Homo sapiens: one gene and its partners. The protein of the gene in region 3 interacts with the protein of the main gene of each other region in a biochemical or structural test. Each region holds a gene or a part of one and is shown on either strand. Other genes may lie near its edges. The genes, in order: AKT2, PRKCB and BLVRA.

Region 1 (3,746 bases), on a different chromosome or scaffold from region 3:
CCCAGAGCAAAGGCTACAGGGCAAGCCAAGGTCATGATCTGGCCTAGGGAGCAGGGACACTGGCCACAGACCTCTGGGGCTGGCTGCTCCCAGCACCAGCCCACAGACCACAATAAGACACCAGATCCATGGGGGATCTGACTGTCCCAAGCCCTTCAGAGCAGCCTTCCTCCCTGGGCCAGGCTGGGCCAGGGGCACCCCCACTCCAAGTCCCCTTGGCCTATGCAAAGAGGAACAGCTGGGAAAACAGCTCCCGGCCTCACTGCAAGGCCAACTGTTACTGCCTTGGTGGGGAGTGTAAACATGATGTGTGACCGAGCTGGTAACTGGGAGACACAAACAGCTTCGTGGCCAGCGACAGAGGAGCATGTAGTGGTCTGCGTTGGTTCCTGGACCCTTCACATCCACTGCCAACCAAGTTCAGCCCACGAGTGAACTCCTGCTGCTTCTCTGGGAAGGTAGGAGTGGATGAAGTTGAAAAGCAGCCCATTGGAGGCTCTAGTTACTCCAGCCCAGGCGTCTTGCTGAGCCCCAAGAGGTCTCCAAATGAGAGGAAGAGGTCCTCACAATCCCAAGATCAAGATGCCCCCAGAGAGCTTCCCTGGGGGGAAGAGGTGTTCCCCCAAACACTCCTTCCTCCCAAGTTTTAACAAGCGGGTGCAGGGGCACGGCTCCTCAAATCCAAGCCCAATCCCTCTTCCTCTTCAGAATGTTAAGGCTCAGACAACTTCAGTGACTTCTAACACAGCTTTCCTCCCTCCCCTATGGAAGGAAAGAACTGTTACTGCCTGGTAAATAATCTGAGAGGGTAATGGAATCCAGAGCAGCACCTCCATGGTCCAAAGCACCCCAGTAACCATGACGTTCCCTCCAGAGTCGTTAAGAAGTTCAATAAAGGCTGAGATCAGTGTAAACCCCCAACGCCACACACGTCAAATACAGGAAACAGAAACCCCTCCTCACCAATCGGCATCACAGTCCTCCCAAAATACGCCCCTAAAACCCACTAGGGCCTGTCCCGCCCCGTCCCAGTCCCTTAAAGATCACAAACATCACAGTCCTCTGATTTGGGTTCCCCTACGTTCTAAGCAGGGCTCCCCCAACGCCGTGGTGATATAACCCAGCCACAGTTGGGGAAGCATCCTCCCCAGAAGCCCCCACCCCTGTAAATACAGCACAGCAACGGCTTCCACAGCGCCAAAAAGGTACAGCCCTCTACACTTGATGCGGCGCGCCCCCTCGATAGCTTAGCCCGCGCACGCCAGGCTCGATCTGCCCGCCGCGCCCGAAAGGTCCAGCCCCCGGCCCGCGCACGCTGCGGCCTGCGCTCCCCGTCCCGCAAACTTGCAGCGCTCCCCCCACCGCCTCAGTGGTATGGCCCGCCGCCACCGCCCCGGCCCCCCGAGGCTGGTCCCACCGCCCCCGCTCGGCCACCCCCACTCAGCTCCTGAAGGAGGGGCTCGAGGGCCGCGGTCCCCCCGCCGGGCACGGGTGGTACAGCCCATCGCGGCACCGCGGGGGGCCCGGACGCGACCATCGTGGGGGGGGCGTTCGGGGACACGCGCTGGCGCACTCACCTGTCACCGGCAGCCGCCCAGCCTCTCCGGCGGGGCTCTACCCCCGCCCATCGCCACGCTGCGCTGGTTCCCTTTCCTTGTGTTTCCCGGCAGCGGCAACGGCGCCGGCAGCGGCAGCGGCGGCGGCGACGCCTCCTCCGAGGCAGGCCCAACGGCTAGCACGGCGCGGCCCCCCCCGCCCCCTCCCCCCAGCCCCCGCTTACCGCCCCCTCCCACCCTCTGGACGGAAATACCGCCCTCTCGCGCCACAAACAGGAAGTGACGTACAAAGAGCCAGAGACGAACTCTGAGAGAGCGAGAGCGCAAGAGCAGGGCAGAGAAGGAGGCGGGCTCACAGCAGGGCGCCTGCGCACATTAGACAACTTTGGGCCTGTGTGGGTTAGAGATGGGCCTCGCTAGGCCGTGGGGCGGAAAGGCGAGATGGGGCTACGCAGGCGCACTAGGACTCCGACGTCTGCTTTCCCTAGGGCCTAGCCGTAGTGATTATTTCCCGGCAGCCCCTAGTCCGTATTTACATACGCTTTGATCTTGTTTTACTCAGTTCTGGGTTCTGACGCTCTTAAAGGACCCCGGAGCGGGAGTTAGTTAGGAGGGGTTTCCTTTTCAGTGTGCTCGTCATGGTTGAGCTCAGGCTCTGAAGCCACACAACCCCAGACTTGAATTTCCTCCTTTCTGGTGACTGTGGGCAGAAGGCTTGACCGTTTTCTGTGCCTCAGTATCCACATCTGCTAAATGGAAACAATCATCGCTGTGTCGCTGGCTTTTGAACCATTTTAATGTAAACAAAACGGTTTTTACCAATTAGTTCATTACTGCAAGATATTAATGCCACCTGCTCTCATCGTACATATTCCAGTGAATCTGGGATATAACATTTTATAATGCAACTTGGGCCCATAAAGGCCTTAAAATCACCCTGCGGCCGGGCGCGGTGGCTCACTCCTGTAATCCTAGCACTTGGGGAGGCCAAGGCAGACGGATCATGAGGTCAGGAGTTCGAGACAGCCTGGCCAACATAGTGAAACCCCGTCTCTACTCAAAATACAAAAAAAAAAAAAAAAGCCGGGCATGTCGGTGTGTGCCTGTAATCCCAACTACTTGGGAGGCTTGAGGCAGGAGAATCGCGTGAACCCGGGAGGCAGAGGTTTCAGTGAGCCGAGATCATGCCATTGCACTCCGGCCCGGGCGACAGTGCAAGTCTCCGTCTCAAAAAAAAAAAAAAAAAAGAAAAGAAAGAAAAAAGAAAAAAAATGACCCTGCAAGAAAAGAGCTTTGCACAGATCCTAATCCGTATATTAGCTAGTATACTGGACAGCTGTGAGACATCTGGCTCCCAGCCCCTCCTCTCTCATAGGGGATTGTGCTGCCTCCTGAATTTGGGTTCCAGTATGCCATATAACTTGGCAATTGTATGCATTGGTAAGTGAGAAAAATGCCTGACTGAGAGTTGAATCCTGGGTCCACCTCAGTCTGTGAGAGTGTTTCAGGCAAATCCTGCTGAGGGTTCGGCTTTCGTTTTCTGAGACGTAAACCTAATGCTGGAACTAGCCCTTTCTTATTTGGTTTCTAGCTTGGAACTTGCTGCTTGGTATTCCTAATTCCCGGTCTTCCCCATCAGTCGGTGTTAATAACTCTGACCAATGCCTCCCCCTTCACAGCCCTAACCATTTTCATCTATTACTGTCTGGTGACAGGTCTGTTTCCCCCACTGCACAGGAAACACAGTAAAGGAAGAGACCAAGACTGTCTCAGAGATCAGTGTGTATCCAACATTGCCCAGAGTGGGCTCTTGCAGAATGTTTGTTTCAAGCATTAGCCCTTCTGCCCTAATCTAGACTCAAGGTTACTGTGACCAACCCTCTTCACTCCTGTCCACACTGAACAGCTCACAGGCCATTCCCCTACGTCTAAGTCTCCCCTGGGCCAACTTGAATCCTAGCCCCTCCTAGGGCACTTAATTATGACACACTGAGATCTCACTGAAACCACCCATGTGCTTGTGTATAAACTCCTTGCAGCACTGGTAGTCAAGGGCAGTGGCTTTCTCTTTTTTTTTTTTTTTTTTTTTGAGACTCACTGCATCGCCAGGCTGGAGTGCAGTGGCGAGATCTTGGCTCACTGCAACCTCTGCCCTCTGCCTCCCAGGTTCAAGCGATTCTCCTGCCTCGG
Region 2 (3,746 bases), on a different chromosome or scaffold from region 3:
TAAAGTATTTTTCACCCTCTCTTCCCACAAATAGCATCCCCAAAGCCCCAGAGCCTACCTTGGCACTGGAATCCCTGCTTCCCGAAGCCCCTGCAAAAGCAGAAGGAGGTGTATGTCAGGCAGCCCGGGGGGCCCAGCCTCCAGCTAGTTACCCACAGAGTCACCCGCCTTCCTCCCTGCCTCTGTACCCCAGGTGCAAACTCCCAGCCACAGGCGGGTGCCCAAGAGTCTTCCGCCTTTGTGGGGGTAGGTGGGAGCTCGGCTGTAACCCCCATCTGCCTTCACTCCTGCAGAAGAGAGGAGGCTGCGACCACCAGGTGGCGGGATAGTGGGGAGCGTTTCCGTCGGGGTAGGGGCTGAAGGCAGGCGACAGATGTACCCATAGATGCCCCGAGCACCCTCGGGAAAAGAGAAGAGATAAAGACGCATTCAGAGGGAGGGCGAGAGTGACCCCGCGGCGGTGGTGTCCTCTGGGAGGGGGACTGGGAAGGAGGAAAGGATGCCCCACTACTGGAGGGACTGGGGAAGAAAGGGGCCCGCAGTGATGTGACCGAGGAGTGGAAAGGGGAACCCAGGCCCTCGGGGAGGGGCAATGGGAGATAACACAGGGCGCTGCCCGGAGGCACAGAGGAGTGAGAAAGGATGTCCCATGCCCGCAGGGAGATAGAGAAGGACACCCAGGGCGCCGCCCCCCCCGGAAACAAGGGGTGGGGGGCGAGGGCTCCTCGCGCCCGGAAGCAGGCGGAGAGATAGGGAACCCCGGGTCGGAGAGCACCCGAGGCGCTGCCCTCCAGGGCAGGCACAGACCCCGCGCGCTCCTAGTCAGGTGGAGCAAAGGCTCCCGCGACGCCGCCCCTGGGCGCTCTAGAGGCGCCTGAGAGCAGGAGAGGGCAGGAGGCGCCCCGCGGCGGCCCGTCTGGGACCAGGGTGGGGACAGGGCAACGGCAGGACTGTCCATCCGGGAGTCCCGGGCAGCAGGGTCCGGAGCCGGGAGTCCGGAGACGCGGGGTCCCAGGGTGCGGAGGGCGCGGAGGGCGCAGAGGGCGCGGAGAGGGGGTCCCTGGCGCGGCGCTGCCCTCGGGGGCCCGGGAAGGTGCCCTGCGCGCGCGCGCTCACCAGATGAAGTCGGTGCAGTGGCTGCAGAAGGTGGGCTGCTTGAAGAAGCGGGCGGTGAATTTGTGGTTCTTGACCTCATGCACGTTCTTCTGCCGGAGGGCGCCTTTGCGGGCGAAGCGCACGGTGCTCTCCTCGCCCTCGCTCGGCGGCGGCCCCGCAGCCGGGTCAGCCATCTTGCGCGCGGGGAGCCGGAGCCCGAGAGGTGCCGGCCCCGGGGCCGCGGGACCGCGGGCTGCGGGCCGGGGAGGCGCGGGAGGCGGCGGCCGCTGCTGCACCCGGGGCCGCGGGCGCTTCCCCTGCGCCGGCTCTGGCGGCCGCGGCGCGCGGAGCCGGGGCTGTCACTCGCCCAGCTGCTGCCGCTCGTCCAGCTGCGCTTGGCACCGCTGGCCCCAGCTGCGGGGGAGGGAGGCGGAGCCCCGGGCCAGCCCCGCCCTCCTCATTTGCATCGCGCCCAGGCCCCGCCCAGCGCTGCCAGCTGCTTTACATATCGGCGCCCGGGCTACCGCGGGCCTCGCGGCTAAGCGTGCACAGCCGCAGCTCTGCAGCGCCGGGACCGCAGCCCGGGGTCGTCGGACCCGAGCCTCGCCCCCCACCCCACCCCGTCCTCGGCCCCCGGGGCTGCGTTCAGGAGATGTGCCCAGGGGAGGAGCGAGAGTGGAAAGACCTACGGGGCGAAGGGGAGCGGGTGGAAGGGGTGGGGCGCAGCGAATTCCACCCCGGCCTCTGCGGAGACTGGTACCCATCCACCCCCATCCATCCCATTGGTCATTCTGCACGCGTCTCCTGGAGGGATGGGCTCCCGCTGTCACTCATTCGGAAAGGCTTGTGGCCGCACACACTTACACACACATACACACACACGTTCTGCAGAGGTAGGGGAGGAGCGATCTTTATTTTATATGTCTCTAACTCCACCACAGAGAAGATTCTTGGCTTTGCTTGCCTCCTGCACGTTTGGAAGAGAACTCCCTACCTTCTGTCCATCCCCTCTGCAAAACGACTCCGTTTCCCCAACTGTAACATAGGGCTAATAGTGTGGGGAGGAAGGATTTCAGTAGATCAATATTTTTCCAAATTTCATTCATTTCTGACTCGTCTTCACAAATTCTGGTCGTATTTGTGCACCCTCTGGGGGAAAAAAAGCCTATCTCTTTTGGTCTGAGTTTGAACAGCAAGAGGTATCTACATTATTAAAATATCTCCAGGTGCCGTCATCTGTCCTAAGCATCTTCGACTGAAGTCATCTTTTATTTGTTAAGAGAGGAAATTAATAAATGCTAGAGGGGTGTTAAAGACATTACTATCCAACCAGGACTCTCTCCTTGATGTGATCTGAAGGTAACTGAAAGGGTAATAATTGTCTACAATGTGTAATTCAATGTTATTTAGCGCCCTGTTCATGCACAAGGCCTAAAGATACCCACTGCCACCATGTCCCCCACTCTGGGAACGCAGAGCTTCATTAGGCTGTGAGCTCCTTCACCAGACCTAGGCTCTGTGAGAGCAGGGGGGCTGTTCACCACCATGTCGCCCAGCACCAAGCTCAGTGCCTGACACCTCCCAAGACCCCAGTAAATATTGGTTGATTGAGTGAGGGCATGGATGAACAAGTGAATGAATGAAGACTTAAAGGTCGGCACTTCTTACCCCCACTCACACCCAGTAGGTGTTTAATAATAAATATCAAGTGATTGCTGGGCATCAGGTACTTGTGCTGTCTTATTTAGCCCCCGCAACAACCCTATGTAGATCTGGTAACTTTCATTATGGATAAGGATGGGGAGGTTCAGAGTGATTAAGATACACCCACAGTCATACCGTTGCTGAATGGTGATTGGGCTGGCCTGACTACAAAGCATCCTGGTGACAAAGGGGTGAACCTGAGTAGTGGTGGATGAAGGGGGGCAGGCTGGAGTTGCACGAGCTCAGGTCCCACTATGACAATTTTGCCTGGAAGCTGCTGAGTGGTAAGTCATTATTAGGTAGCATGTCGAGAGCAAGGGCTGCAATAATAGAATGTCCCTCTCCTACATAGTAATTCAAAGGTAAGGAGGAAAAAATAGCATTCACTTTTAAGGTTGACATGTTTGGGAAACTGGATGTGCCTGTCTATTATTAGTCCTTGAAGAGGCCCCACCACCTCCCAGGGAGGCTTGGGAAAACATCCCAGGAGACATTGCTGCTGAAGTAGATTTCCTTTGAACTGATGAGCTGGAAGCTCACAGCCCACATCCTGCCTTTTGAATGAAGTGCCCTGGATGACTTTGGTCTGTAACAACAAACAGTACCTCATGGCGCCGGGGCCTGGGGATGCAAGGGCTGTGGATGGAAAAGAGCCACTTGGTTCCTGAAGGCGTTGCACCAAGTGAGGATGAGAAATGTGGTTCCCATTGGACCCAGATTCCTGTAGGTCAGGGTCTCAAACTGGTGGCTCCAGATGCTCTATTTTTTTTAAGCTAGCCCAGTGGGTTGTTGTTGTTGTTGTTGTTTTTTAAGTTCACGGGTCATAGAATTTTACTTAAATATCCAGATTCTGACTTATCTAGGAAAAAAGATAGAGCTAAATGGAGCCTACATTCCTCCCTCACTCATACATTTGTTCTTTCAATCAACAAATTGCTTATTAAGCA
Region 3 (3,746 bases):
GAGCAAGACTCTGTCTCTAAATAAACAAATAATTTAAAAAGAAGAATCTTGAGTTAGTTCCTGAATTATTGCATAATGACAAATAACAGCTCAGGCTGCAGTGACTCACTAGAAAGTTGAAAGAAAAAAGTCAACACCTTTGCAGAAACAACTTGCTTGAAGCAATTTAAAGCAGGTTTCTCCTCCCCCCGTATCTACTGCAGCCGGTCTGCAAAACAGTCTTGGAGTTTGAGCCTTTATTTGCTTTGACTCCGAAACACAACGGGCTCAGGTGCACACAGATGAGCTATCTCTCTAGAGGGATGAAGAGCCAGCCTGTGACCCCAGAGAACAGAGTTCTAGACCTGGCTTGGCACCCACTAGCTATGTGATCAAGAGCAGGACACGGGGTCCCTTGTGCCTTAGTTTCTGCACCTTGAAATAGAAGAGGGGGCAGATGAACTTAGATGACCCTTATGTTCTCTTTCTGTGCTAACATATCACTTTAACCCACTTTACTTCTTTTTTTTGCGGGGGGTGGGGGGTTCTCTTTCGGTTTAACTTTCTTGGTGTCTGGCTTGGTTAACTGAAGGTTTTTAGCTTCTCTTCTGGCTCCGCAAGCAAACTAGGTTGAGGCTCAGGTTGCAGCCATCAAGTTCCCAGGCACAAAGGTTCTGTACAGATAGGGCTTTTCCTTGGTACTCTGCCAAAGAGAAGCCACTCTCTTCCCCACCCCACTTTCCAGCCCCTATCTGCTCTATGTCCCTCCTCTACCTCCTCCTCACCACTTCAAAAGCTTCTACCTTTTACTGAAAGTGATCTTAATATAACAGGAGAGAAATGAGATGAGGTCAATTACTTTCACTAAAGTCTAGTGTATTTAAACTTGGAAGGGCATAATCACGTTTGAAAAGAGCTGCTTATTAACTCAAATAATTGTAGAACAATGTGTAACTCTATTTCAAAATAGGGTTGAGAGCAGAACTTTCTGGAGTCCCATACCTGTTCTTGGGCACTGACCACTCCCAGAAGGTCCAGATCATAACTATGTTCCCTTAGTGCTGAAAGATGATTTCTGCCCAGCCGAGTGCTACAGGAACTGCGTACACAGGCACAACTCACAAGTGCGGGGGCGGGGCGGGCAGGGGAAGGAATGCAAATCTTCCACACGCCAGAATATGTGTGGGTCTAACTTTTGTTTCTAACATTTTAAAAGCTCAATAATTATGCTTTCAAAGATCTCTAGAGAGAACATCTTTCTTCAGCAGATCGAGATTTTTTACAAGCAAGATTTCACAACGTGTTATCTGCATCCTCAATATTAATTACATAAATAATTTTATTCTCTACACTGACTATATCATGTTCTTTCACTGTTTTGTTTTCCTTTAGATTTTTTAAGGCGCTCCAAGTTCTCAGATTTCAGGTGAGGAACTTCAAGGCCTTTTCAAAGTCTGAGGTTTTCTGAGTTTGTAAAAGAGAAACGGCTAAGTTACAAGAAAAATCATTACGTATAAATTTGACTTATATAAAATATTCAACTATTCACTCAGGCATCAGCAAATATTTGTTTTAGCACAACAAACAGCACACATGAGTTGAAATATGGTGGACAGAAAACAAACCTAAAGAAATCCTGTAGCACCTAAAAAGAGAATGACACGACATTACTTCATGAAACAGAGCCAGGGGTCAAAAGCAGTAGTGGCCCACGGGTGCGCAGTATGTGCTTTGTTTTTCAAAAACATTTTTTGCCTATTTCCTTTTATTCCCACAATATCCCTAAGAAGTAGAGCGCCCCCCGTGCCCCAACCTTCATTCTGCAGAGGCAGAAAGACATTGGATCCCTTGCTGATGGTGGTCCCTGGTGGTCCCTCCTCAGCAGGCAGGCTGACTGTACTCTTAGCATCCAGCTGGGTTTAGCCAGTGGAGGAGATCGGCAGGCAAGAAACAGAAAGAGAGAGGCTAGGGTACTTGTGCTCCCCCTGCCTGGTTCCTCAGGCTGCTGCTCTGGCAGTGGCTGCATTCTGTGATGGCCACAGCAGGTCTGGAAGGGAGTGGCTCCTCCAGCAGTATTCCAGCCCCCTCCTCCCAGCTCTGGTCCCCTCCCTACCCCTTCAAACCAGAGAGGGGATGGTGCCCACTGAAGCTCTTCCCTGTGTGCCTCACCATCACTTGTTGGCTCCTCCAATCCTGCCCACTCTTCTATAAAAAGTCTCCTTAAAATTCCTTTCATTTTTATGCTTTTCACTGTTGGGATTCCCAACTGATAAACTTGGCAGTATATCAGTTTGCAGCATCCCTGGCCTTTCCCCACTAGATGCCAGTGGCACATACCGTTTTCCCCCCAGCACGACAATCAGAAATGTCAGTAACAACTACTGGGTTAAGGGCCGGGCACGGTGGCTCATGCCTGTAATCCCAGCACTTTGGGAGGCCGAGGCGGGCATGGGGCTGATCATGAGGTCAAGAGATCGAGACCATCCTGGCCAACATGGTGAAACCCCATGTCTACTAAAAATACAAAAATTACCTGGGTATGGTGGCGTGCACCTGTAGTCCCAGCTACTCGGGAGGCTGAGGCAGGAGAATTGCTCGAACCTGGGAGGCGGAGGTTGCAATGAGCCGAGACCGTCCCACTGCACTCCAGCCTGGGTGACAGAGCAAGACTCCATCTTAAAAAAAAAAAAAAAAAAAAAAAGGAACTACTGGGTTCATGGAAATCACTAAATTATTGCTGACAAAGCTCTAGAGTTTCACATTCCAATTTGCACGTGGGAGAGATGCAAAATCTCACAGTAAATTAATAGCACAGCCAGGACTAAACAGCTTCCTTGGCTTACATTATGTTTCCCTTTTGATTTCAGTCTCTTTCCCACATGCAAATTGGAATCTGAAACTCCAGAGCTTTGTCAGCAATAAATTAGTGATTTTCATTAACCCAGTATTTCTCACCAACATTTCTGATTGTTGTACTCGGGGGGAAAAGGGTATGTGCCATTGGCATCTAGTAGGGAAAGGCCAGGGATGCTGCAAAACATCCTGTGATGCACAGGACACCTTCCTACCCCAACTACACATACACAAAGAATTATCCAGCCCAAAATGTCAACAGTGCCAGAGTTGAAAAAGCCTGGATTACACATCATGCAGAATGAACTACAGCTGTGACCTTCCTCCTTGTTCCTCCTCAAACGCCCTCTCAAGTATCTATTATTGCCCCAAAGCCAGGTGACTCACAGAAGTATGGGGAAGGATTAGGGAGAGGGTGACCCTCTCAGGTGGGGCCAGCTGCCAGCCTCAGAGGTCTAAGGGTAAAGGTAAAAGCAACTCTTGCCCTGGAGGGAGTTGGATACTTTGGGATCTATTGAGAAAAATATAATAGCTACATGGGACACAAGTCTGGAAATATATACATCAAAATATTACCAGTAATTATGTCTCTAAGTGGTGAAACTTTTAGTGACTACTTTCTTTTTGCTTCTCTGTACACTTTAAACTTTTCTATAAAGATTAGTTAACATAATTATTCAAAACTCTAAAAAACATTACAAACTATGCCACTTTCACTGACTGCATCCCTCCTAGCCCCAAACTGAACAGACTTTCACAGGGCAATAACATATCAAGGTGCTCTGATAATGAAGTCCACAGAAAATTTTCCCTATAACTGAGAATCAGGAAAGGCTCTGCTTCCTTCAAGGCCATTAACATTTGGGGGATCAATGAATGAATGAATGAATGAAGTTGCCATGTATGTTTTACTT

The links.
Region 1: the proteins of BLVRA (region 3) and AKT2 form a complex in vitro, tested with the Homo sapiens proteins (one study listed by BioGRID).
Region 2: the proteins of BLVRA (region 3) and PRKCB form a complex in vitro, tested with the Homo sapiens proteins (one study listed by BioGRID).

What each region holds. Positions count from the first base shown.
Region 1 is NC_000019.10:40,283,604-40,287,349, forward strand, and holds the start of AKT2 (RAC-beta serine/threonine-protein kinase), read right to left. Parts: upstream 1,743-3,746; 5' UTR 1,578-1,742; intron 1-1,577. UniProt on the Homo sapiens protein: Serine/threonine kinase closely related to AKT1 and AKT3. All 3 enzymes, AKT1, AKT2 and AKT3, are collectively known as AKT kinase.
Region 2 is NC_000016.10:23,833,719-23,837,464, reverse strand, and holds the start of PRKCB (protein kinase C beta type), read right to left. Parts: upstream 1,483-3,746; 5' UTR 1,290-1,482; coding exon 1,117-1,289; intron 91-1,116; coding exon 59-90; intron 1-58. UniProt on the Homo sapiens protein: Calcium-activated, phospholipid- and diacylglycerol (DAG)-dependent serine/threonine-protein kinase involved in various cellular processes such as regulation of the B-cell receptor (BCR) signalosome, oxidative stress-induced apoptosis, androgen receptor-dependent transcription regulation, insulin signaling and endothelial cells proliferation.
Region 3 is NC_000007.14:43,761,541-43,765,286, reverse strand, and holds part of BLVRA (biliverdin reductase A), read right to left. Parts: intron 2,657-3,746; exon of another isoform or gene 2,513-2,656; intron 1,083-2,512; exon of another isoform or gene 982-1,082; intron 1-981. UniProt on the Homo sapiens protein: Reduces the gamma-methene bridge of the open tetrapyrrole, biliverdin IXalpha, to bilirubin with the concomitant oxidation of a NADH or NADPH cofactor. Does not reduce bilirubin IXbeta.